Homo sapiens: one gene and its partners. The protein of the gene in region 2 purifies or fractionates together with the protein of the main gene of each other region. This does not show direct contact. Each region holds a gene or a part of one and is shown on either strand. Other genes may lie near its edges. The genes, in order: MVP, DDX19B, CRABP2, SERPINB1, SERPINB2, ANXA8 and HP.

Region 1 (3,500 bases), about 40 Mb from region 2:
TTTTATATTGTATTTTTACCTTACCTTTTCTATGGCTAGATACACAAGTACTTGCCATTGTGTTCAGCTGCCTGCAGTATTCAGGACAGTCACATGCTGCACAGGTTGGCAGCCTAGGGGCAGGCTACGCCATCTAGACTAGGTGCCATCTAGGTTTGCATAAGTGCACTCTTTTGCACAAAGACAAAATCATCTAAGGACTATTTCTCAGAATGTATCCCCATCATTAAGTGGCGCATGACTGTATCAGAGTTTCAGAGTCTCAGGCAGCGGGTAGCCAGGAGGCCTTCCCAGAAGGGGAATTAACTTCAGGTCTGAGGGGTAAGTCAGAGGCTGCCAGGAATCAAATGGGCCAGTGTCTCAGGTGTGTAAGAACTAAGCATGCAAAGGCACAGAAGGTGTTCCTAGAACGTGCGTCTGGAGGAGAGAAGGCAGAGGGCCTCATGCCACTAGAGGACATACATCTCCCAGGGCAGTCCTCTGTGGGGGTGTAGGGACCTCACCTTGACCACGCGCTTCTGCCCCAGCTGATTCTTGCCATCCGGTCCGACAGGGTCGAGAATCACGCAGTAGTTGTGGGGGCCCAGGGTGGTGATGGGCACAACCCCCAGCACCTCCTCGTGGACATCTGGCACGTGGGCCTCTGTGTCCTGCACTGTTACCAGCCACTCCTCCCCAGTGCGGCGGGACACTCCCCTGAAGTCCCGGAAGTTCCGCCGAGCCCGGAGGTGCAGGGCTGTCTGCAGAGCAACATGTTGGGTATTTGAGTGACCTGCCTCCAACTTCAGGGGATCTGCGAGCCCCATTGGCCACCAAATGCTCCCAATGCTCCCAGATCTCAGAGACAATTTCTACCAATCCAGGGATTGTTTTTTTTTTTTTTTAAATCGGAGTCTCTCTCTTGTTGCCCAGGCTAGAGTGCAAAGGTGCGATCTCAGCTCACTGCAACTTCCGCCTCCTAGGTTCAAGCGATTCTCCTGCCTCAGCCTCCTGAGTACAGCTGGGATTACAGGTGGGTGACACCATGCCCAGCTAATTTTTGTATTTTTAGTAGAGATGGGGTTTCGCCATGTTGGCCAGGTTTGTCTTGAACTCCTGACCTCAGGTGATCCTCCCACCTCAGCCTCCCAAAATGCTAGGATTACAGGCATGAGCCACTGCACCCGACCGGCTTTGTTTTTTTTTTTTTTTTTTGAGACAGGGTTTCGCTCTGTTGCCCAGGCTGGAGCACAGTGGCATGATCATGGCTCACTGTAACCTCTGCCTCTGGGGTTCAAGCGATTCTCCTGCCTCAGCGCCTCTGGAGTAACTGGAATTACAGGCATGCTCCACTACACCCAGCTAATTTTTAAATTTTTTGTAGCGATGAGTTCTCACTGTGTTGCCCAGGCTGGTCTCAGACTCCTGGCCTCAAGTGATCCTCCTGCCTCAGCCTTCCAAATTGCTGAGATTACAGATGTGAGTCATTGCGCCCAGCCCCAGAAAGACTATTTAACCCTTCAGATGATCCAGAATACTCAGGCAATCTGATCTCTGAATTTTTTTAAGTGACCCTAAAATTATTGCTTCTCTTTTACTCTCATGCCATTCTACCACCATTCTCTGCCACTCGGAGGGTTCCCTAGCCCCAGGTCCCTTAAACCACAGCCCCCAGAGCACCAACCTTTTCCGTAAGGATGACGGCGTCCACCAAATCCAGAACCTCCTCAAACACCGCTGGGAGGTACGCCCCTACTGTGGTGACCAGCCATTCTTCCCCTGGGCCAAGAGTGGAGGGTAAGGGACAAGGGCCCCCCAGCCTGCTCCCCACCTACCCCTCCCCCACAGCTTAGACACAGGGGATTGACAGATTTCATAGGCAAAAAGATAGCACTGACCCCAGGCTCAAGTTCCTGACTGCGGTCCTCTTATTCATTCTTTTGAGGCCAAACCCCCACCCCAGTTGAATTTTAAAAGTTTTTTTTTTTTTTTTTTTTTTTTTGAGACGGAGTCTCCCTCTGTTGCCCAGGCTGTGATCTCAGCTCACTGCAACCTCAGCCTCCTGGATTCAAGTGATTCTCATGCCTCAGCCTCCTGAGTAGCTGGGATTACAGGCACGTGCCACCACGCCCGGCTAATATTTGTATTTTTTGTAGAGATGGTGTTTCACCATGTTGCCCAAGCTAGTCTGGAACTCCTGGCCTCAAGTGATCCGCCCACCTTGGCCTCCTAAGATGCCCAAGTTGCTGCTATGCCAACAGCCTGTTCTGCCTTCTCTAAGCTCCAAAGACCAACTTTTGTCCTTCTGCTAAAACAGGCAGCAGAACTGCCTCTGTTAGAGTTGTGGATGTCCTTTGGTTTACTGGAGAAGCCAGAGTGCCTGGATGCAGGTCCCAGCCTCGCCCTGCCTGGCCACACCCCAGGGCAAGCAACCTGCATTCTGCATCCCAGTTTTGATATATAGAAAGTGGGAATGGCCGGGTGCGGTGGTTCACGCCTGTAATCCCAGCACTTTGGGAGGCCGAACCTGGTGGATCACGAGGTCAGGAGATCAAGACCACCCTGGCTAACATGGTGAAACCCTGTCTCTACTAAAAAAAAAAAAAAAAAAAATACAAAAAAAAAAAAAATTAGCTGGGCATGGTGGTGGGCGCCTGTAGTCCCAGCTACTCAGGAGGCTGAGGCAGGAGAATGGTGTGAACCCAGGAGGCGGAGCTTGCAGTGAGCCGAGATCGCGCCACTGCACTCCAACCTGGGCAACAGCAAGAAAGCAAGACTCCGTCTCAAAAAAAAAAAAAAAGTGGGAATGGTAGCACCTCGGGGTAGTACCTCTGTGGCCCAGGATGGAGTGCAGTGGTGCAGTCACAGCTCACTGCAGCCTCCACATCCTGGGCTCAAGAAATTCTCCCCCTTCAGCCTTCTGAGTAGCTGGGACCACAGGTGTGTGTCCAAGGCCAGGCTAATTTTTAAATTCTCTGTAGAGATGGGGTCTCACTGTGTTGCTCAGGCTGGTCTTAAGCTCCTGGGCTCAGACGATTCACCCACCTTGGCAAAGTGCTGGGATGACAGGTGTGAGCCACTGTACCTATTGGCCTACATTTGTCAATTGTATTTGAACATCTTCTTTGTTGATCCAGAATCAGGTAAGTCATGGCCACTGCCCACAGCTCATGGTGAAGGTGAGGGAAGGAAAAGCCACATCCGCATGGTCATGGTCACATTTTCCAGCCCAAGTGGAAACAGCATGAAGCGGGGGTGGGGAAGGAAGAGCAGTGGGTGGCCCTCAACAGCTTTCAAAAGATACCAGGAAAGCGCCTCTCTGGGGCTACAGGAGGCTTTCCTCAACCTTCCCCTGCTTCCCCTGCAGTGGGGACCCCTCCTGCCCACCCACCATCATCGCCCCTTGGTGACCCCACCTGTCACCCTCTCCTTGCCGTCCCGGTCCCAGCACTCCTTGCGGGCCCTGAGCCGCAGAGCCTGGTTCTGCCTGATGATGGTGGCCTGAATGATCTCCACGACCT
Region 2 (3,500 bases):
GAAGTTTCTGGTCCCTTTCTGCTTTGGTGTTGGGAAAGAGGAAAAAGAAAGGGAACACATTAAAGAGATTAGAAAAAAGCAACTTAACAAAAAGGAAACCATTCAACTGGAGAAAGCCGACTGAAAAACAAACAAAAAAAAAAAGAAATCATTATAAAGCAGTAAAAATCCTTCACTAATTCTGAAGGATAAAGAATACACTAATGGGGGAGGGCAGTGGGGGACAGCATTAGGAAAAAGAGCTAATACATGTGGGGCTTAATACTTAGGTGATGGGTTGATAGGTGCAGCAAACCACCATGGTACATGTTTACCTATGTAACAAACATGCACATCCTGCACATGCACCCTAGAACTTTAAAAAAAAAAAAACAGCTGGGCACAGTGGCTCACACCTGTAATCCCAGCACTTTGGGAGGCTGAAATGGGAGGCTCCCTTGAGGCCAGGAGTTTGAGACAAGCCTGGGCAACATAGTGAGACTCCACCTCTATAAAGATTAAAAATAAAAATATTGACAGGGCATGGTGGCTTGTGACTTGAATCCCAGCACTTTTGGAGGCCGAGGAGGGAGGATCCTTGGAACTCATGGAGTTCGAGACAAGCCTGGGTAACATAGTGAGACCCCATCTCCTAAAAAATAAATAAATAGGCTGGGCATGGTGGCTCATTCCTGTAATCCCAGAGCTTTGGGAGGCTGAGGCAGGCTGATCACCTGAGGTCAGGAGTTCGAGACCAGCCTGACCAACATGGTAAAACCCTGTCTCTACTAAAAAAATATAAAAAAAATTAGCCAGGTGTGGTGGCGCAGGAGGCTGAGGCAGGAGAATCACTTGAACCTGGGAGTTGGAGGTTGCAGTGAGCCAAGATCACACCATTGCACTCCAGCTTGGGCAACAGAGTGAGACTCTGTCTTAAAAATAAATAAATAAATAGACCGGGTGTGGTGGCTCACGCCTGTAATCCCAGCACTTTGGGAGGCCGAGGCAGGTGGATCACCTGAGGTCAGGAGTTCGAGACCAGACTGGCCAACATGGTGAAAACCTGTCTCTACTAAAAATATAAAAACTAGCTGGGCATGGTGGTGGGTGCCTGTAATCCCAGCTACTCAGGAGGCTGAGGCAGGAGAATTACTTGAACCCAGGAGACAGAGGTTGCAGTGAGCCGACATGGTGCCACTGCACTCCAGCCTTGGCAGCAGAGTGAGACTCCGTCTCAAAATAAATAAATAAATAAAAATAAATACATAAATAAATAATAAATTTAAATAAATTTTAAAATAAAATAAATAAATATATTAGCTGGGCATGGTGGTATGTGCCCATAGTCCCAGCTACCAGGGAGGCTGAGGTGGGAGGATTGCTTGAGCCCAGGAGTTCCAGGTTACAGTGTGCTATGATCTTGCCACTGCATTCCAGCCTGGGTGACAGAATGAGACCCCATCTCTATTAAAAAAAATACACACATATATACACACACACACATATATACATACACACACACACACACACATATATATACATATGGCCAGATGTGATGGCTCACGCCTGTAATCCTAGTACTTTGGGAGGCCGAGATGGATGGATTGCCTGAGCTCAGGAGTTCGAGAGCACTGTGGGCAACATGATGAAACCCCATCTCTACTGAAATATGAAAAATTGGCTGGGCATGGTGGCACGTGCTTGTAATCCCACCTACTTAGGAAGCTGAGGCATGAGAATCGCTTAAACCCGGGAGGCAGAGGTTGCAGTGAGCCGAGATGGTGCCACTGCACTCCAGCCTGGGAGACAGTGCGAGACTCTTGTCTCCAAAAAATAAAAAATAAAAAAAGACATATTATTTCATAGACAATATTAATCTTAAAGATTAATGATGCAGCTGCTTTGGAAAACATCCTGGCACTTTCTCAAAAGTTAAATACAGAATTACTATATAATCCAGCAGTCCCACTTCTAGATATATACCCGAGTATTGAAACTATATGTCCACACAAAAACTTGTACATTAATCAAAAGCAGTATTATTCATAGTAGCTAAAAAGTAGAAATAATCCAAATGTCCAGAAATTGATAAGTGGATAAATAAAATGTGGTATATCCACACAATGGAATATTATTTGGCAACAATAAGGAATAAAGTACTGATACATGCTACAACTAATGAACCTTAGTTCATTATACTAAATAAAAGGAGCCAGTCACAAAGGATCACATACCGTATGTTCCCATTTATATGAAATGTTTAAAAGAGGCAAATCTAAAGAGACAGAAAGTAGATTAGTGATTGCCTAGAGCTGGGGAGTTTGTAGGGAAACAGGGAGTAACTGCTAATGTGTACAGAGTTTCCTTTTGGGGTGATGAAAATGTTCTAAAATTGACTGTGATATAAGCTACACACTTCTGAATACACCAACCATCAGTGAACTGTACACTTTAATCTCACCATAATGTCATAATAATAGGGTCTCAAGATTCTGTTTCATAAAATGCAGGAATTTGTTGTTGTAAGGTTAATAAAATGGCTAGTTTGGGCCTGCTAAAAACAGCAAGAGTTAATCATTTCATACCTGAGTTTTTATTATCACTGGATTCATTATTATGAGTTTCTGTTCTATCCAAAAGATAACTCTATGATGCAAACTCAAGCCAAAAAGAAAATGTCAAAGCTACCTACTCCTAACAAACCCTCTTAGGCACATTAATAGGTTAAAACAATGACAATTTAACCTGACCTGAATGGCCGGGTGCAGTGGCTCATGCCTATAATCCCAGCACTTTGGAAGGCCAAGGCAGGTGATAGCTTGAGCTCAGGAACTTGAGACTGCCCTGAGCAACATGGTGAAACCCTATGTCTACAAAACATACAAAAATTTGCCAGGTGTGGTGGTGCACACCTGTAGTCCCAGCTACTTGCAAGGCTGAGGTGGGAGGACTGCATGAGCCTGGGAGGTCAAGGGTGCAGTGAGCCATGTACACACCACTGCATTCCAGCCTGGGTGACAAAGTAAGACTCTATTTCAAAAACAACAACAACAACAAACAACAACAACAACAACAACAAAACTGACCTAACAAGAAGTTAGTTAAAATAGTCAAAACTCTCAGAACTAAAAAATAAAAAAAACAGGCCGGGTGCTGTGGGTCATGCCTGTAATCCCAGCACTTTGGGAGGCCGAGGCGGGCGGATCACGAGGTCAGAAGATCGAGACCATCCTGGCTAACACGGTGAAACCTCATCTCTACCAAAAAAATACAAAAAAATTAGCTGGGCATGGTGGTGGGCGCCTGTAGTCCCAGCTACTCGGGAAGCTGAGGCAGGAGAATGGCGTGAACCCAGGAGGTGGAGCTTGCAGTGAGCCGAGATTGCGCCACTGCACTCCAGCCTGGGCGACAGAGTGAGACTCTGTCTCAAAAAATAAATACATAAAAATTTAAAAAATAATAATTAAAAAAACAAAAAACCTCTCAGAACTACTTGAAACACATATTTATCTCTACGTTGA
Region 3 (3,478 bases), on a different chromosome or scaffold from region 2:
TCAGGCTGGTCTCAAACTCCCAACCTCAGATGATCCACCCACCTCGGCCTCCTAAAGTGCTGGGATTACAGGCATGGGCCACTGCGCCAGGTCGTTTTTGTTTGTTTGTTTGTTTTTTGTTTTTTTTGAGATGGAGTCTCGCCTTGTCGCCCAGGCTGGAATGCAGTGGTGTGATCTTGGCTCACTGCAACCTCCGCCTCCCGGATTCAAGTGATTCTCCTACCCCAGCCTCAGCGTCCCAAGTAGCTGGGATTACAGGTGCGCGCCACTATGCCCAGCTAATTTTTGTATTTTTAGTAGAGATGGGGTTTCACTATGCTGGTCAGGCTGGTCTTGAACTCTTGACCTCGTGATCCGCCCGCCTCGGCCTCCCAAAGTGCTGGGATTACAGGCGTGAGCCACTGCGCCCAGACTTTTGTTTTGTTTTGTTTTTGAGACAGGGTCTCTCTCTGTCACCCAGGCTGGAGTGCAGTGGTATGATCTCGGTTCATTACAACCTCCGCCTCCCGGGTTCAAGCAATTCAGCAATTCTCCTGCCTCAGCCTCCTGAGTAGCTGGGATTACAGGTGTGAGCAACTGCGTCCAGCCCTGGCTTTTTTTTTTTTTTGGTAGAGTCGGGGTTTCAGCATGTTGCCCAGGCTGGTATCGAACTCCTGAGCTCAAACAATCCACCTGCCTTGGCCTTGTAAAGTGCTGGGATTATAGGTGTGAGCCACTATACCCAACCTTGATTGGCTTTTGAAGAAGCTGTTATTTCCATTTTACAATTGAGGAATCTAAGGCTCAGGGTGGTTAAGCCATTTGCTCAGGGTCACCCAGCCTGTAAGGGGGCTGAGCCAGGAGGAAATCACAGCCTCCTGGACCTTACTCCAGAGCCTCTGTCTTCCCAGGCTGCTGACCATTCTGTAGAGGGAAGCAGCTGCCCCTGCTCTCTTTCATTGCTGTGGGGCAGAAATTGGGCAAATGAAGACCTATCTAGCACTAGATACGGTGGGTAGATAGGGCAAAAAGGGAAATGGCTCCTACTTCCCAGGACATGAGTGATGGGGTCTGGCCTGTGCTTGGCCAGGGGTACAGTCCCAGTGACTCTGATGAGCTGTCAACAGGGTAGACAAAAGGCCAAAAGTGAAGTAAACAGAGACAACCGGAGCCAGTAGCAGGATGTTTGTTGGGTAGGGGGCTGGGGAGAAGCTGCCCCTGGGCATTCTGGGACTGAAGAGCTGAGACGTGGGGAGCCTGATCCAGACCTGCTGACTCAACAAGGTGGGGCCACAGCTAGGAACAGGACTCCCAGGGGCAGGCCACTGCCTCTCTCCCTCTCCTCCCTAAACCCCCTCATCTTTCAGGGCTGCACCGCCTACCGTCTCCTTCAAGGCACTTTCTTAGACACCCAGGCACCAGGCAGATGCACCCCCCAACACACCCACCCCAAGCAAGTCACAAATCAGCCTGCTCCAACTGTCTTATGGGGAGGGTGTGAGAGAGGTGCCCAAAGGCCCCTAAAAGGTGAGCCTCTCCTCTCTCCCCACAGGGGTGAATGTGATGCTGAGGAAGATTGCTGTGGCTGCAGCGTCCAAGCCAGCAGTGGAGATCAAACAGGAGGGAGACACTTTCTACATCAAAACCTCCACCACCGTGCGCACCACAGAGATTAACTTCAAGGTTGGGGAGGAGTTTGAGGAGCAGACTGTGGATGGGAGGCCCTGTAAGGTGAGTGCCAGAAGGGGCTCCAGGGTCATGGCGTCATTGCCCTGCCTCTCAACCTGCCATTTTCCAGGCTAGCAGTTAACTCCTAGCTTCTCTCTGTCCCAGTAGGGAAAATCCCTAGGTGGTGGTGGGGGCTAGAAAGGGGCTCTCTCCCTTATCCCTCTCACTGCATTGCCCCTGCTATGGGCCCAGCTCACTTGGCCACCTGTCTCTTGCAGAGCCTGGTGAAATGGGAGAGTGAGAATAAAATGGTCTGTGAGCAGAAGCTCCTGAAGGGAGAGGGCCCCAAGACCTCGTGGACCAGAGAACTGACCAACGATGGGGAACTGATCCTGGTAAGTCCTGCCTCCTCCCCACTAATAGCAAACCCAGTGCTACCTTCCAAGATTCTCTGGGAGACCCCAGGGTGCAGGAGACTCAAGAACAACCATGGCTGGACTCCGCACCCTGCTGATGGGACTGCTTGAACAGAACTAAGGTGTCCCTATCCCATACAGTGCCCTGTGTGAATTAGAAATGGTGTTCCTTTTATGCAAGCAAAGGGCATGTACTGAGGGATCCCAGCAGTTCTTCAGGGAGATCTTCCTGGCTTGAGGAGGAGGACGGGCCCCAGGGGCTCTATTGCTATCCTCCCTCCATTGATGCCTGGGCATTCTGGGACCAGCTCCTGCCTGTTGGTCTTGAGCCAAGAAGCAGGTTTGGACCTGGAGGCCAAGCAGAGTACCTCCATTCAACCCTCCTCTCCAAAGCCACAGGACCCCAGGGGCCTCTCAGGCTAACAACTACTTCTGTCCTTCCAGACCATGACGGCGGATGACGTTGTGTGCACCAGGGTCTACGTCCGAGAGTGAGTGGCCACAGGTAGAACCGCGGCCGAAGCCCACCACTGGCCATGCTCACCGCCCTGCTTCACTGCCCCCTCCGTCCCACCCCCTCCTTCTAGGATAGCGCTCCCCTTACCCCAGTCACTTCTGGGGGTCACTGGGATGCCTCTTGCAGGGTCTTGCTTTCTTTGACCTCTTCTCTCCTCCCCTACACCAACAAAGAGGAATGGCTGCAAGAGCCCAGATCACCCATTCCGGGTTCACTCCCCGCCTCCCCAAGTCAGCAGTCCTAGCCCCAAACCAGCCCAGAGCAGGGTCTCTCTAAAGGGGACTTGAGGGCCTGAGCAGGAAAGACTGGCCCTCTAGCTTCTACCCTTTGTCCCTGTAGCCTATACAGTTTAGAATATTTATTTGTTAATTTTATTAAAATGCTTTAAAAAAATAAAACCTGTCTCTGGCTCATTGGGCAGGTAGATAAGTCACCTGAGTTCAACCTTGCCTCTGAAATGTAGTATGGGAAAGACTTGTGTTTCTGCAGCATGGAACTGAGTTATACAACAGGAGAGGACAGTCCTTCCAGTCACCGTTCTAACCACCACCCCTTCGTTTGCTGCTGAATCCACAAGCCTCACCTCCACATTCCCTTCTCCAAGGTCCTTCCTTGGTGTCCTGCTCTGGCTTCCAAGGTCACAAGGGCCTCCTCCTCCTGACCTCTCAGCTGGGGCACTGGGCTCTGAGGAGCTGACTCCCACCTTCTCCCATGTTTTCCATCATGGTGACAGTTTCCTCCTCCTCCTCCAGCTGTTGCTTCCCTCTCCTCCAGCTTCAGCCCATGGGTGACCCCAGGCCTGGCCTTGGCCTCCCACATGGTTCCAGATGAGCTCAACGGCACCCACAAGCTGGCCTTGCAGCTGCCTGGGCCTCTGGGTGAGAGGTCTCATCCTGCC
Region 4 (3,500 bases), on a different chromosome or scaffold from region 2:
TAACTATTTCACCATTACATAAATTAGATGCTCTCCACATAAAATACGCATTGGATTCTAGTCTCTGCCCTGGAACTCACCAATTGTTTTGACCTTCAACAATTTACTTATAGTCTATAGGCCTGTTCCCTCATATATAATTTGAGCGGGCTCACTTGGGCCCCTACAATTCAGTTTCTACACAATTAACATGATTTACTCCAAATCAGAGTGGATTTTAGGATGAGGAACCAAAAGAGAAGACTTACAGAAGGCAGAGTTTTTCCTGAGAGTGAGAAAACCTGGAATATGGTAAGTATTTTAAGAAAGCGGGAGAAAAGAAAGTTTGTTGGCAAAAGAGTTGCTAAAATTTTGTTGTTAACATGTGGAATTCCTCTCTACCAACAATGTTGTAAGGCCAATAATCCCCACTTGCAGTCTTAACTTGTCTAGGGATAGGGGGCAATAAGAAGAGGCCTGAGACCAGTCTAGCTTGCAGAATCCTAGGACGTTTTATTAATTCATGATGCCCACTATCCTTGTGGGAGCAAGAATATGCGGCGTTTCAAGCTCCATTCAAAGAACTACATTTGACAAAGTTTTATATCAGTCCAAGAGCCCCCACCCCATCTCCCCACACAGCCTTGGAAGTCAAGAGCCTTAATCAGAAAACACATGAGAAGGCCAGGCATGGTAGCTCATGCCTGTAATCCCAGCACTTTGGGAGGCTGAGGTGCGCGGATCACCTGAGGTCAGGAGTTCGGGACCAGCCTGGCCAACATGGAAAAACCCCATCTCTACTAAAAATACAAAAATTAGCCAGGCCTAGTGGTGCATGCCTATAATCCCAGCTACTCAGGAGGCTGAAGCAAGAGAATCACTTGAACCCAGGAGGCAGAGGTTGCGGTGAGCTGAGATCGTGCCACTGCACTCCAGCCTGGGTAACAGAGCAAGACTCTGTCTCAAAAAAAAAAAAAAGAAAGAAAGAAAGAAAAAGAAAAAGAGAAAAGAAAACACATGAGAAGGTGGCTAACAGTAAAACCTTTGTTCAGCAGTTTATCTTACTACATGGTTATTTTTGTAGACTCTTGGTATCTTTTATCCTAAGACACCCACTTCTTGATTTCATGCAGCGCCACATGAACTATATATTATACATAAAGAAGAACAAAAAAGGGAATGCAGGTTATAACCATTGGCCCTTTAATTGAAGAGTCTAAAAACTAGAGGTCTGTAACAGAATACTAATCCTGCAGAACAAGGGACAGAAAAGTCAGGCGAGGCAAGCTTGTCTTCGTAACCTGGGCTCTCAATTGGGGTGCTCTCTTACATTTCAATTGAATATCTGTTTTTAAACCTCCCTTCAACAGTCAGGGTGTCTGTCTATTTTGTGGCTTCCAAAATTCTAACTGCAAAATAAATGACCATCTTATCATGTTTTCCCATGGCTATCAGGAGGATATAGCAATTTTATAGATTACTACATGGTCAAGAATCTACGCATCGGATGTATTCTTTTCTTCTTCTTTACTTGATGCATTCAAAAGCAACCACTGGATTTTTTTCAATGTAAAAAAGAAAAATAGATACCCATGCCAAAATTCATGGGTGTAAACAGCCAACAGAGCCAAACTTACAAAGAAAATGAAAGACTTGTTTCTGAACAGTGGTTTTATTGGTAAAGATATAAGACATATTGGCTCTATTAAAAACTCAGGTAATAAAGCACTAAGCTTGATTTTTGTATTGCTACAGTCTCTTTCTTCTAAGGGGAAGAAAATCTCCCCAAGAATAGGATGCTACCTGAGGAATTATGCCGAATAAAGAAAAGGAATGGATGGTCGGCAGTGAAATTTTCTTCGGGCATCAACATGCAGAAAGTTGCGATGCCTGCTGTGGCAGCTGCCGCCTCTGTTCCCTCTTCATTCACTTCCACAAATGACTTGTGGACAATTTTTGATATAAAAATATCTCTGGCTCCTGACATGCCAGACAGATCAGCCTTGCTACTGTTAAAGAGATCCTGCACACCTAGGCGGGCGAGGTCGGAGTTGAGAGTGTAACTCTCTTCCAGTTTGAACCTGGGCAAGCTGACATTAACTTCAATGAAATCGAGATTCTCAGGTTTAGTCCACTCATGCAACTTTTCCAAAGTCAACTGTTCCTCAATCTGCAATTAAAAATGAGGCGAAAGAGGAAGTGATATCAATTTTACATAAGTAAGGCAATAAAGTATTATTGAATCAATGGACCCATAATATCAGTTGCTAGTTAGTTTCCTTCATGTTTTGTGCCAAAACAGATTCCATTTGGAGCATTTTATTTCATTATGGCAATTGGTGAAATAGGGCAGAGGTGGTGTTCCAAGTCATCAAAGGTTCAAGGGATTTGTACATTGGGTCCATCATCCACTCACCCACCCATCCACCCATCCATCCACCCATTTGTCCACTCATCCATCCATCCATCCATCCATCCATCCATCCATCCATCCACCCAGCTACCCAGCAACACAGCCACCCATCCATCCATCCATTTATTCACCTATCTACCCACCCACCCATCCAACCATCTATCCACCTATTCATCATCCATCTACCCATCCACCCATCCATCCATCCATTCACCTATCCACCCACCCACCCATCCAACAATCTATCCACCTATCTATCATCCATCCACCCATTTACTCATCCACCCATCCACCCATCCATCTACCCATTCATCCATCCATCCATTCATCCAGGGTTTACTAAACCCCTACCACAATGGATTACAGTGATAGGTCATGACAGCTGCTATTACTTCCAGGTTGAGTAGTGCTAGAAGAAATTTAAAATATTTCTTCTATTTAGTCTGAATCCCACTGAAGCTGAAGTAATATCTAATAACTTTAGCTCCTAGGTAAAAATTTTAAAGGCAGATTATGCACTGGAGCTAGTTCCTCATCTGAAATGTGATGTGGACATTACTTATATCTACCTTATAGATTGTTGAGAGCATTAAATGAAATGATGTATATAAAGTGCTTGGCCCATAGTGCTACATAAATGTCAGCTATTATCATTACTATTGTTATAGCTATTGGACTGGAATAGAACCATCACTCTACTTCTTCTAATGGTGCTGATAATTCCTTTTAAGAGGCTAGAGATTTTCACTTTACAATCAGAAAAAAAACTAATGCAAAAATACAACCAAAAGAAAGGCCACATTGATTGTTATACAATGTATTAAAAGTCTGTACATGCAAATGATTAACATTAGACCCCCTTCCTGATAGCAAGGATGATGAATAGGTGGATAGGGAGGAGACGGAGAGCACAGAGCAGGCTAGAGTCCCTACATATAATGGAAACCTCATGCAAAGATCATACTAGTAAATAGGCCTAACATGTCACATGAGGCTTTTTCTGTCTTGTACCCATTGAAAATTTAATTCACTATCTATATGAATTGTGATGAGAACAAACAGTGTAATAATAGAATTTTATAGTACGTGATGAAGATATATGCTACAC
Region 5 (3,500 bases), on a different chromosome or scaffold from region 2:
AATTTCCTTGGAAGAGAGGAAAACCAGCCAAGCTGTCGTAGGAAATCTTCTTCTTTTACGTGAGGGTGGAGTTGCACCACTTCTTTTCAGAGAGTACTAGGCAGGACTTACGATGTATGACTCAAAGAGCAGAAAAAGACCTCACAAACCCTAACACCTCTCCTTCTAGCCCAGAAATTCACCAACTTGCTGGACAAGGCTGCCTTAATTAACTTCATTAGCAGAACCCCAACCATCAAGCCACTTACCAGATCAGCTTCTCCTCAGGGACCCCATAGGGAGGTGCTGCAGGACCAAGGGTTCCCAAGGAGGTGGGATGGGGTGGGTGGCTGGGAGGCAGGGCCAGCTTGCAGGTATTAAGACTGGCAGACCAAGGCGGGCAGGCAGCAGTGTTGTGGGAAGGGGATCTGAGGAAGCTTCAGAGGGGACAGTCCTTGCTGCCAGCTTCCCCGTGTCAGCCAAAACTGCCTACTTACTATACGAAGAGATTCACAGTGTCATCAGACCAACTTGTCCCTCACATGGACATAAATTTCTCTGTGTATGAATATGGTATGTGTAAATATTTTAGGTGAACCCTGTTAATATTGCATGACCTGTTTTATGCCTTAGCTGACTCTGGCTTGTAGTTTTTGACAGATTGAAAGTATTTTGTGTATAAGGCCACTGAAAAGAGAGAGACACACAAGGTTCTGAGTTAATCTTGTGACTTTCTTTAAAATACTGGCATTTTTTTTTCAAGACCATTTATTGGTTGGATATAATTTAGATAATTTGGGGAAGAGGTTTTAAATCATTTCATAATAACAATTTGTTTTCCAAAATGGCCAGGATATAAATTAATCTAAAACACCTCATGCTGTTTTCTATAAGGGAAATTTAGGTTGGCTGATACTTTTATATTACACAGAAAGAGTATTGAGTATCTATGGTTGTTCCCCATGTATAAGGGAAGGGAAAAGATCTAGGACCATTTTAGAGCCACCTGATAGCCATCTGTTTTAAAAGTTCAGTAAATCCGTGGGCAAGTGTAACCGTTTTCTCTAATTCTGATTGCAGGTGCTTCAGTTTAATGAAGTGGGAGCCAATGCAGTTACCCCCATGACTCCAGAGAACTTTACCAGCTGTGGGTTCATGCAGCAGATCCAGAAGGGTAGTTATCCTGATGCGATTTTGCAGGTATCTGACTTACTGGTCCAAATTTCTTTTGTGGTTTATTTTTGCAATCTTCCTGTCTTAAAGCCACAGTGTCAGACTGGGAAGGAAGCGAATATACCCTCCCCCATTCACAGAAAGAAAACTAAGACTCAGAGTCATTAAGAAAAACATGTCCTAAGATGATACCCATAACGAGAGACGAGCCAGGACAGAATCCAGACTTCATGAGTTTTAGGCCAAGCCTATTTACTTCTAAATTCTCTCATGCCTCTCTGTCATTGGTGAGGTATGTGTAATTTATCATAAATCCACAGTAGAGACTCCTAGAATACACGTGTATGGATAAGGATTTCCAGAGGAGAGAGGGTAGGGACTGACAATTGATTGAGAAATGGCAGAAGGCTGGGCCCAATGATTGCATGAGAAATCACTGACCTTCAGGTAACTTTCCTTCTATCTATCTAATCTATCATCTATCATTGATCTCTCTCATCTATCTTACCTATCATACATCTATCAATCCTATCTATCTATATATTTTATGAATCATCTATTTATCATCTATCTTCTCTGTCATCTGTCTATCTTATCTATTTATCAATCAGCTATCTCGGGGAGTAACACCTTTCCTCAGTACTCCATTTCCTTAAATGTCAGCTATCCAGTTAAATTATAAAAACTGAGTATAGACTGCTCCTGTTGGCAACCAACTTCCACAGTCATGCTTATGAGGTAGATTATGAAGAGGTATCTCCCAAAGCTCTCTTCCTGGGCACTCTGAAGCTCCTTCTACCCATTGCCCAGGGAATTATGGGCTAGAGGAGGTGGACAGGATCCTGATCATGTGGAGATTCCGCCAGGTGTTCTGTGGTACCTGGCAGTCCATCAGGAGGGCTCTGTCCCCTGCCCTAGGACAGGCTGCTGCTGTGACCAAGCCCTGTGTCTGACATGGTGCTTACAAACTTCAGTTTGAGAACTGAAATAACCATTCACTTTTGTGGTTTTCTAAAACCCATGTTTTCCACTGCATAGTTTGCCCCATAAAATAGGTATCTAGAGAAGCTATATGAACTTTGTAAGATCATTACTAAGGCAACATTTCCTCCCTGCCAGCTTTACTGAGGTATAATGGACAAATAAAAATTGTACATGTTCAAGATGTACAGTGTGATGACTTGCTATACCTATACATTGTGAAATGATTACAGTCAAATTAATGAGCACATCCATCACTACAATTACCCACCATTTGTATGTATGTGTGTATGTATAGTGAGGACACTTAAAAAATATATTCTTCACAAATTTCAAGTAAACAGTTTTATTAACTATAACTATTAATGAACACAATCTTATTAACTATAGTCATTATACTGTACATTAGATCCCCAGAACTTATCCATCTTATAAATACAACAAAAATTCCTTAGAGACTTTGAAGTTTAGGAAACTGAGAAGGGGCCTTTCTTCTAGGCTGTTGGTCACCTGGTTAAATCCAATCCATAGACAGAGCAAAATTGGAAAGAAATTAAAATTCACCTTATTAGTTTTAATGTACCACATCCTTATCGAAATGATTTTCTCAAAGATTCCTCTAATGTACCAAAAATAAAGTATGTATTAATATAGCATTTCATGATTGTATTCAAAAACTATTACCATGGCTTAAGAACTATCTTGTTTAGTAGTTCTGTGTTATATATAAAGAATTCCTTCTTTCTTTTCAAGGCACAAGCTGCAGATAAAATCCATTCATCCTTCCGCTCTCTCAGCTCTGCAATCAATGCATCCACAGGGAATTATTTACTGGAAAGTGTCAATAAGCTGTTTGGTGAGAAGTCTGCGAGCTTCCGGGAAGTAAGTGAAACCTGTAATTGAAATGGCTGGATCCCAAACAAGTAATGAAGTCACTTTCAAAGCAGTTCTCTACAATTCAACAGTTCATAAAAGCAGAGTTGGAATTCCACACCAGCTCCCTAGGGCTGGCCTTGCGTAACAGCTGCCCTTCCTGTACCCTCTGGGGCTTCCTCCTCTTCCCATTGCAAATGTCCCAATCTCAGAGTCATAAATCAGGAAAACAAATGCAACTGTTTTCCAGAGACACTATCCCCCAAGTCAAACCTCTTTCCTTTTATTCTGTCTCTATAATGCAAGGAGTACAAGAGGGTGGATAGAGTTGGGGAGTAAGCGTGGACAAAGGGGTCTGCACTCTTTCCCCCTTCAGCACCTGCCTTCCATAGCCAACCTCCACTCCCACCCTACCCCAGGTCTCCTAATTTCAATGGGAAGACCATAATTCACCATTATGCCATGGCTTGTTTGGTATGTATTTTATGTAGCCT
Region 6 (3,311 bases), on a different chromosome or scaffold from region 2:
TTTGCTAATTGGAATCTGGTTAGATAGTCTATTGGCGCTCATCTGACTTATCTCCTTAGAAGTTGGCCGCCAGGACTACTTAAATCTGGATTTGAGCGGTGGGCCCGATTCCTACCGGACTAGTTCATCTCATTGACTTTTCAGAGGTGGCTTCTTCTGCAAGGATTTGGTGTCTTTTCCAAGGAGCAACCATAACTTAAATGTGAAACCAACTTTCTGAGTGGGACACAGGGGAGCCTCTGTGCCCTGGTCTCTGCATCTCCCCTCTGCCCCCCATTCCCCTTGGGATCCAGCCACACTGACCTCTGCTGTTCCCTGCACACACCACATGGTCATGAATGCAAGCACATGGTGCCCACTGGGAAGGGAGGGGCTCACGTAGTGTTGGCCACAGCCTCCAGGTTTCCCTGAATGTCTGGGTTTCAGGCTGGCCTCAGCATTGGGAATGCCTGCTTACCATGATCATGCTGCTGAGGGTCTTGCCGTACATCTTCTTGAAGTGACATTTGATAAGATTTAAGTCAATCTCGCTCCTTGAAACGATGTTTCTTATCAGGGTCCCATCACGCGTCCCTGCTCCCTGGGCAAGACAGCAGCCATCAACAATCCTGCCTCACCTTTCCTGTCCATCTCTGAGTGATGGACGGATCTGTGTGGTTGGGTTCTGGGGCTTTTAGAGGGAGGGAGATGTGGGAAGGAGCCTGTGCTTCAGCCAGGGAAGCATTAGGAGGGAAGCTTTGGTGGCTTAGGGTGTCCACTCCCTTAATTCCTTCTCACCCACTGCCCAGAACTCTTCCTTTATGATGCCAAGTGCTCCAAACTGCAGTATGTTTGGTTTGCCACATCAGATTCTAGACACAAAATACTCACTGCTCCAGGAACAAGACTTCCTACTAGAGCAATGGCAGCAATCAGCTCAGCCAGGAATTTCACAGGCAGGGCCTTCCTGCTCACCTTCATCCCTGACCAGTCTCATGTCAGCTGGGGCCACATGGCCAAGGGAATCGCATGCCCTCTCTCATTTCCTGGGCAGAAGTGGCCAGAGGGCTTGGGTTTCGGGTGTGGAACTAACTTCAGGGGATATCAGCAACCATCAATCAGAGAAAACGGGCAATGGTTTTAGTTTCAGGGAATTATTCACCTCTGGAGATGCAGCGTCCCTTTCCCAGACTCAATTTCACCTCCGAGAACTAAAACCTTTCTGATCCACGACAGGTTTGGGTAAGATAACTCCCCCGTGTGGAGGATCGTGGTGGCTTTGAGCTCCTTGGCTTTGCACTTGGTGCTATGTAGGGTGAGCGTCAGGAAGAAGAAGACAGGACAGTTACCTTCATGGCATAGTAGAGTCTCTCTGCAAAGTAGCTGTGGAGGTTTTGGGTGCATTTCACTGGCAAACAAGAAAGCTGTGTTAATGTCTGGAGCTGGTAGGTGGCACTGCCTACAACTTTATGTCTTGCCTTAGGTCTTAAGAGTCAGTGTTGTGCAAGGCTTGGCATATTTCTTTGTTCCGTGCCTTTCCCAATGTGAGAGGCTTTGTGTCAGGTGGCGTGGGACAGGGAAGGTAGCCCGGGGCACTGGGCACAGCTCCAAAGGCCCAAGCAGGCAGGCAAAAGGGTAAGATGTGAAATGCACCAGACTGTGGGGCTCGTCTGAAGACACCAGCTCAAGCCCATCCAAGGGCAGCTCAGACTCAGGACAGGCCCTGGGCTCTCAACCCAGAGACACCTCCACCAAAAATCCAGCCTCTCAGCTCCACAGAAGCACCATGGGATGGTGGCTGCTGGCCTCAGAGTGCCCTCTCTCTCACACTTATCAGCAGGAACCCTGCATTTTGAATTCCCATGTGACAAGTGGAGTTTGGCCCCACAGGACTAAGGCACCTGGGGGCGTCTGGTCCAGAGACTGGGCCCATGCTTGCTCCCATGGGTACTGCTCAGAGACTTGGCATCTGGGTGGGGAAGGTTGGCATTTTCACTTAGGGCTGCAGAAGGAGCATGGGCTTTGAGTGAGGTAGGCATGTGTTCACTTCCTGCCTTGATGGTGCAGTATGGCTTCATTACTCAACCTCCCTGACTCATCTGGGAAGTGAGACTGATGCGAGGCTTCAAGGTGAAGTGAATAGGAAGGCCCAGCATGACGGAGCACTGCATGGCTTCACTATTCCCTGCTGGCAGACTTCATTCTTGGTGGGTTCAGGCCAGATCCAGGGGTGGAAGCTGAGATTGGAGCAGGGGTGTGATTAGATGTCCTGACATAGACCGGATTGTATCACAGCATCCAAGGCCAGCTGGGGTGTCTCAGATGGCCCTGTCCACCCAGAGAGGCTAGGAAACAGCAGGGAGCCTGCTGGCTGCTGGCTTTGCACGGAGGCAGCCTGGTGTGGAGGTGAGAGCTGCAGGCCAGGAGTCCGGACCTGGGCTCTGTGTGTAAGTGGGAGAAGAGACGTCCCTCTGCCCTGGGCCTCAGCTCTTTACTCTGCAGTGACTCTTCCCATTGTGATCTCAGCCCTGGAACCCATGAGAGCTCTGGAGTGGGTCCTCCTGAGTGGCCCTGACTTCCTGCTGTGGGGAAGATCCCCAGTGTTTCTCAGCATCAGACCATCCGTCACTCAGTTTGGACTCAAGCCACACATCACTGTTTCTTCAACTGGCAATGAAGGCAGGGGCCAGGCCCCTGGTTCATGTCCAGAAAGATGACTTTGTGCTGGCCAGGGCTTCACAACCACAGCCAGAGTGCTCCCTGCATGGCTGCCATGAGTACACACAGGGTTGGGGCTGGCATAATCACTGGCGTATGCATTTGTGTGCGCACACACACACACTGTCTGTCTCACACACACACACTCACATTCCACCCACAGTCATGCACACACACCCTCAGGCACACACACTCTCACGCACACACACACTCATGCAGACACACCCACACAGCACTGGGCACCACGTGGGCAGCACAGAGAACAATCTTTGGCAGCACACACTGGGACTCTAGAGGTGGAGCAGTCCCTGGGTGAGGGAGACAGGCAGAGTGTGAGTCGGGGGGACATCCCGTGAAGGTGACACAGGGATTCTTTCTCTTGTGGTCGCATCCCTAGGCCCTTTGTTCTTTGGTGCTGCCCCACGGTGAGCCCTGTGGCCTGAAAAACGTGCAAGTCTGAGCTCTTACCCACAGTGAGCATGGCCTCCTCCAGTGAGCCATGGGTCTCACTCTTGATGCTGTCCTCAATGCTCTTGTTGGCAATTTTCTCATACTCTTCAAACACTGTGGAGAGGGCTCTGCTCAGGGGATGGTCAGACCTCCTCGTGATGCCC
Region 7 (4,051 bases), 1.8 Mb from region 2:
TTGTCTTTTGTTTTCTGGAGTGCTGGTAGGTTAGATCCCAAACTCTGAAGTACTGTCTGTGTTAAAACACTTTTTCCCCATCCCATTTTGAGCTAGCCTCTTCCTCAACCAGGCCCATGCCTTTTCTCCTAATTCACTTTGAGGAGGCAACAGCATGCAGTGAAAGGACCTCTGAGTTTGTATCAAACAGACCTGGGTTCAAAGTTCTGCTTCCCTGTTTCATAGCTATGTAACCTTAAGCAACTCACTTACCATCTCTGAGTCTCTGTTTCCTTGTCTGTAAAACAAGGACAACAGTTAACTTTCTGGGACCTAGCATTCAATAGGCACTCAATCAGTGAGCATGATTCCCTAAGGTGGAAGAGTTTGTATCACCTTCGGGATTTCCAGTGGGTTTAGGGTGTTTTCTGCCATACTCCCAGTAGACTCTATACCTTCTGACTACCCTGGACCATAAAGGAGCAAATAAAAAAGACTCAAGACTGAACACAACACAGAAATGGGTCAAAAGAAAGCTCTTTATTGATTGACTCAGCAATGCAGGGCTGGCACCCATCAGCTTCAAACCACATCTTATCGCATCCACTCCTGTCCACTCCCGTCCACTTTGCCCTCTTCCAGGCTGAAATCTTGCTTTCAGGCAAGGGCTTCCGGCCAGCCTTGCATTAGTTCTCAGCTATGGTCTTCTGAACCCAGTCCTGGATGGAAGTCACCTTCACATACACACCATACTCAGCCACAGCACAGCTCTTATCAAAGCTTAAGATCCCAGTCGCATACCAGGTGTCCTCCTCCAGGTCGTGAACGGCAAAGGCACTGCCCGCATCGCCATAGCAGGTGTCTTCTTGGTACTTAGACATGCCAGCACAGAAGGTGTGTTCATTCAGTATGGGCTGCACCCCTACAGGGCTCTTCGGTGTCTTCTTTTCGGGGACTGTGCTGCCTTCATAATGCCTTATGCATTGGTCTTGGTCAGCCACAGGCAGCATGACATACTTCAGATGGTCAGTAAATTTAAAATTGGCATTTCGCCCCCAGCCAGAAACATAACCCACACGCCCTACTTCTGCATAATCCTTTGAAGGTAGGCAGATGGGCATCACTCTCTCATTAACAGACACCTTCTGTTTGAGTTTGATGAGCCCAATATCTACCTGGGAGTAGTTAGGGTGTAGAACAACCTTCTCAATCTCTACAAGCTGCTTTTTCCCCACATAGAGTGTTAAAGTAGGGGCAATGTCTTTCGCTGTTGCATTTTCTGAATGGTTCAGGAAGAGATTTTTAGCCGTGGTCAGCAGCCATTGTTCATTGATCAGCGTGGCACCTGTGGTGAGATTATGGTGGGAAACCATCTTAGCCTGCCAGGGAAAGCTGCCTTTGGCATCCAGGTGTCCACCCAGGATCCGCTGCACTGGGTTTGCCGGATTCTTGGGCTTCCCACATACTGTCAAGGAGAGCAAGACACTCGTGAGTGGAAATGTGCAAGAGCCTTTCCATCTGAGAAAGGGGTGAAAGCATGGGCGGCTGTCACTGCTGCGTAAAGTAGAAAGATTTAAATGCTTTGCCCTTACCACCTGCTGATCTCATTTCCAATAGTTGCAGTTTTAAAATAATTCTGTTTTTTAAATTGTTTACATTACAAAAAGCTCTATTTCCCACTTTTCTAACAAAGGAAGTGGGAAATACTGAGATTTTTGAGCCCTGGCTGGTGAACTGTATTATATTTAAACAATTATCCCAATAAAGGAATTTCCACAATTCCCTGAAATTCATTGAAAGGGCTAGGGGCTACAATAATTCATTCTCTCTAAAGAAAGATGAATCTAGAGCAGCACTGGCTGGAGCTCAGATTTTGTAGATGGTGCAGTTAATACGAGGCAGGTTGGCATTTCCACACCAGTAAGAGCAGAAGAGGCTGGGCCTTTGCCTCTTGTTCTGAGAATGAAAGGAGAGAGCAACAGCTCCTCCTAATAACGAGAAGCAGGAGTTCCAGCCCATGTCCAGCCTCCTGCTAGGCTTCCATGGATTAAGATTTTATGTCATTCCTTGACTTGTTCTCCCTGGAGCTTGCTTCTCCTTAGACCCAGGGCTCTCTAGCAGGCTCTCTGTATGCACAGGCTCTCCTAATCTGTGGGCGATGTAGACAATGGATTCAGCCAGTGCCCTTCAGGCCCTAATGAACAAGACCCTTGGTGACCCTTAGGGAGTCATCACCTAACTGCTTAAGTCTCTCCCTGGCCAGCTGCGGTTCTCCCACATCCCTCCTCCTGGCTCTTGTGTGCTCAGAGGAAGCCGCACTGGAAGGCTGTGCCTCTAGGACGTTCCCCGCTGGACGCCTGCCTGCTCTCTTAAGTGCTCAGCACCCACCTGCTTCACATTCAGGAAGTTTATCTCCAACAGCCTTATTTATCCACTGCTTCTCATTGTTTAAGGTGTACACTCCTGAAACAAAAGGCAAGAAGTGAGCCAAAGGAGAAGTCAAGTCTAGACCCCGTGCAGAGTGAGAAGGCATTTAAAGAGAAGAACTAAAAGGAAGAGGAAAAGGGGACAAAAAGGAAGGGGAAAAGGAGAGAGTATATGAGAAGGAGGAAGGGAAAGAGTGCTGTGCTGGAAGCCAAGTGCCTGGATGCCAGTTAAGCCCAGCAGAACACACTGTGGTCATGGCGGTCACAGCCAAGCAGTACAGGGAGGGCTCAGGGTTCAAATCCTGACTCTGCCTCTTACAGGCTGCCTGAATTTGGGCAAGATACTCAACCTGTCTGTGCCTCAGTTTCCTTATCAGCAAAGTGAAAACAATAAACTCTGTTCAGAGGGATACTGTGAGGACTAAGTGAGCAAATAAGTATAAAGCCCTTAGAGCAGTGCCAGGACAGCAAGACTCACTAGGTGAGGGTGACATCATCATCAGCATTCCTTCTTTTCCCACATCTGCTGGAGATGTAAATGTGACTCTGAGATTTACATGAGGTAGGCTGCATGGCATCGCCTCCCCTTAACAAAACAGAAAACTTGAGGCTGACAAAAGTTAGTCTGCCCAAAGGGCCATGGCTACTGGCGACAAAACGCTTATTAGAATCTAAATCTCCTGGCTCCAAGGAGAGCAACGAACTTTCTGGCGAATCACCTCAGCACCACCCATCATGGAAATGTCAGAGAAGGGGGTTGTATGTAGGGCATGGAGACAGTTGTCCACATCTTACCATCTCCTTCTGTGCGCAGTTTGTAGTAGTTCTTACACTGGTAGCGAACCGAGTGCTCCACATAGCCATGTGCAATCTCGGGGGGCTTCGGGCAGCCGTCATCTGCAAAGAGAGAGAAGCCAGAGAGTTTGCTATTTGGAAATTGTTCCCAGTGAACCGTGAAAAGTCAGATGAGCGGGAGCTGCTCTGCACATCAATCTCCTTCCACCCCGAATAGAAGCTCGCGAACTGTATTATTTTTAAACAATTATCCCAATAAAGGAATTTCCACAATTCCCTGAAATTCATTGAAAGGGCTAGGGGCTACAATAATTCATTCTCTCTAAAGAAAGATGAATCTAGAGCAGCACTGGCTGGAGCTCAGATTTTGTAGATGGTGCAGTTAATACGAGGCAGGTTGGCATTTCCACACCAGTAAGAGCAGAAGAGGCTGGGTCTTTGCCTCTGGTTCTGAGAATGAAAGGAGAGAGCAACAGCTCCTCCTAATAACGAGAAGCAGGAGTTCCAGCCCATGTCCAGCCTCCTGCTAGGCTTCCATGGATTAAGATTTTATGTCATTCCTTGACTTGTTCTCCCTGGAGCTTGCTTCTCCTTAGACCCAGGGCTTTCTAGCAGGCTCTCTGTATGCACAGGCTCTCCTGATCTGTGGGCAGTGCCGACAGTGGATTCAGCCAGTGCCCTTCAGGCCCCAATGAACAAGACCCTTGGTGACCCTTAGGGAGTCATCACCTAACTGCTTAAGTCTCTCCCTGGCCAGCTGCGGTTCTCCCACATCCCTCCTCCTGGCTCTTGTGTGCTCAGAGGAAGCCGCACTGGAAGGCTGTGCCTCTAGGACGTTCCCCGCTGGACGC

What was found.
Region 1: the proteins of DDX19B (region 2) and MVP purify together in Homo sapiens (affinity purification with mass spectrometry; 2 studies listed by BioGRID and IntAct, with this or other methods). This does not show direct contact.
Region 3: the proteins of DDX19B (region 2) and CRABP2 purify together in Homo sapiens (affinity purification with mass spectrometry; 2 studies listed by BioGRID and IntAct, with this or other methods). This does not show direct contact.
Region 4: the proteins of DDX19B (region 2) and SERPINB1 purify together in Homo sapiens (affinity purification with mass spectrometry; 2 studies listed by BioGRID and IntAct, with this or other methods). This does not show direct contact.
Region 5: the proteins of DDX19B (region 2) and SERPINB2 purify together in Homo sapiens (affinity purification with mass spectrometry; 2 studies listed by BioGRID and IntAct, with this or other methods). This does not show direct contact.
Region 6: the proteins of DDX19B (region 2) and ANXA8 purify together in Homo sapiens (affinity purification with mass spectrometry; 2 studies listed by BioGRID and IntAct, with this or other methods). This does not show direct contact.
Region 7: the proteins of DDX19B (region 2) and HP purify together in Homo sapiens (affinity purification with mass spectrometry; 2 studies listed by BioGRID and IntAct, with this or other methods). This does not show direct contact.

Annotation. Positions count from the first base shown.
Region 1 is NC_000016.10:29,833,962-29,837,461, reverse strand, and holds part of MVP (major vault protein), read right to left. Parts: coding exon 3,396-3,500; intron 1,759-3,395; coding exon 1,664-1,758; intron 741-1,663; coding exon 504-740; intron 1-503. UniProt on the Homo sapiens protein: Required for normal vault structure. Vaults are multi-subunit structures that may act as scaffolds for proteins involved in signal transduction. Vaults may also play a role in nucleo-cytoplasmic transport.
Region 2 is NC_000016.10:70,305,686-70,309,185, reverse strand, and holds part of DDX19B (ATP-dependent RNA helicase DDX19B), read right to left. Parts: intron 1-3,500. UniProt on the Homo sapiens protein: ATP-dependent RNA helicase involved in mRNA export from the nucleus.
Region 3 is NC_000001.11:156,699,106-156,702,583, reverse strand, and holds the end of CRABP2 (cellular retinoic acid-binding protein 2), read left to right. Parts: intron 1-1,531; coding exon 1,532-1,710; intron 1,711-1,925; coding exon 1,926-2,042; intron 2,043-2,507; coding exon 2,508-2,558; 3' UTR 2,559-2,978; downstream 2,979-3,478. UniProt on the Homo sapiens protein: Transports retinoic acid to the nucleus. Regulates the access of retinoic acid to the nuclear retinoic acid receptors.
Region 4 is NC_000006.12:2,831,864-2,835,363, forward strand, and holds the end of SERPINB1 (leukocyte elastase inhibitor), read right to left. Parts: intron 2,150-3,500; coding exon 1,745-2,149; 3' UTR 469-1,744; downstream 1-468.
Region 5 is NC_000018.10:63,894,205-63,897,704, forward strand, and holds part of SERPINB2 (plasminogen activator inhibitor 2), read left to right. Parts: intron 1-248; exon of another isoform or gene 249-332; intron 333-1,059; coding exon 1,060-1,179; intron 1,180-2,886; coding exon 2,887-3,015; intron 3,016-3,500. UniProt on the Homo sapiens protein: Inhibits urokinase-type plasminogen activator. The monocyte derived PAI-2 is distinct from the endothelial cell-derived PAI-1.
Region 6 is NC_000010.11:47,470,805-47,474,115, forward strand, and holds part of ANXA8 (annexin A8), read right to left. Parts: intron 3,262-3,311; coding exon 3,166-3,261; intron 2,217-3,165; coding exon of another isoform or gene 2,158-2,216; exon of another isoform or gene 1,395-2,157; intron 1,388-1,394; coding exon 1,329-1,387; intron 581-1,328; coding exon 458-580; intron 1-457. UniProt on the Homo sapiens protein: This protein is an anticoagulant protein that acts as an indirect inhibitor of the thromboplastin-specific complex, which is involved in the blood coagulation cascade.
Region 7 is NC_000016.10:72,057,505-72,061,555, reverse strand, and holds the end of HP (haptoglobin isoform 1 preproprotein), read right to left. Parts: intron 3,303-4,051; coding exon 3,201-3,302; intron 2,443-3,200; coding exon 2,368-2,442; intron 1,445-2,367; coding exon 666-1,444; 3' UTR 501-665; downstream 1-500. UniProt on the Homo sapiens protein: As a result of hemolysis, hemoglobin is found to accumulate in the kidney and is secreted in the urine. Haptoglobin captures, and combines with free plasma hemoglobin to allow hepatic recycling of heme iron and to prevent kidney damage.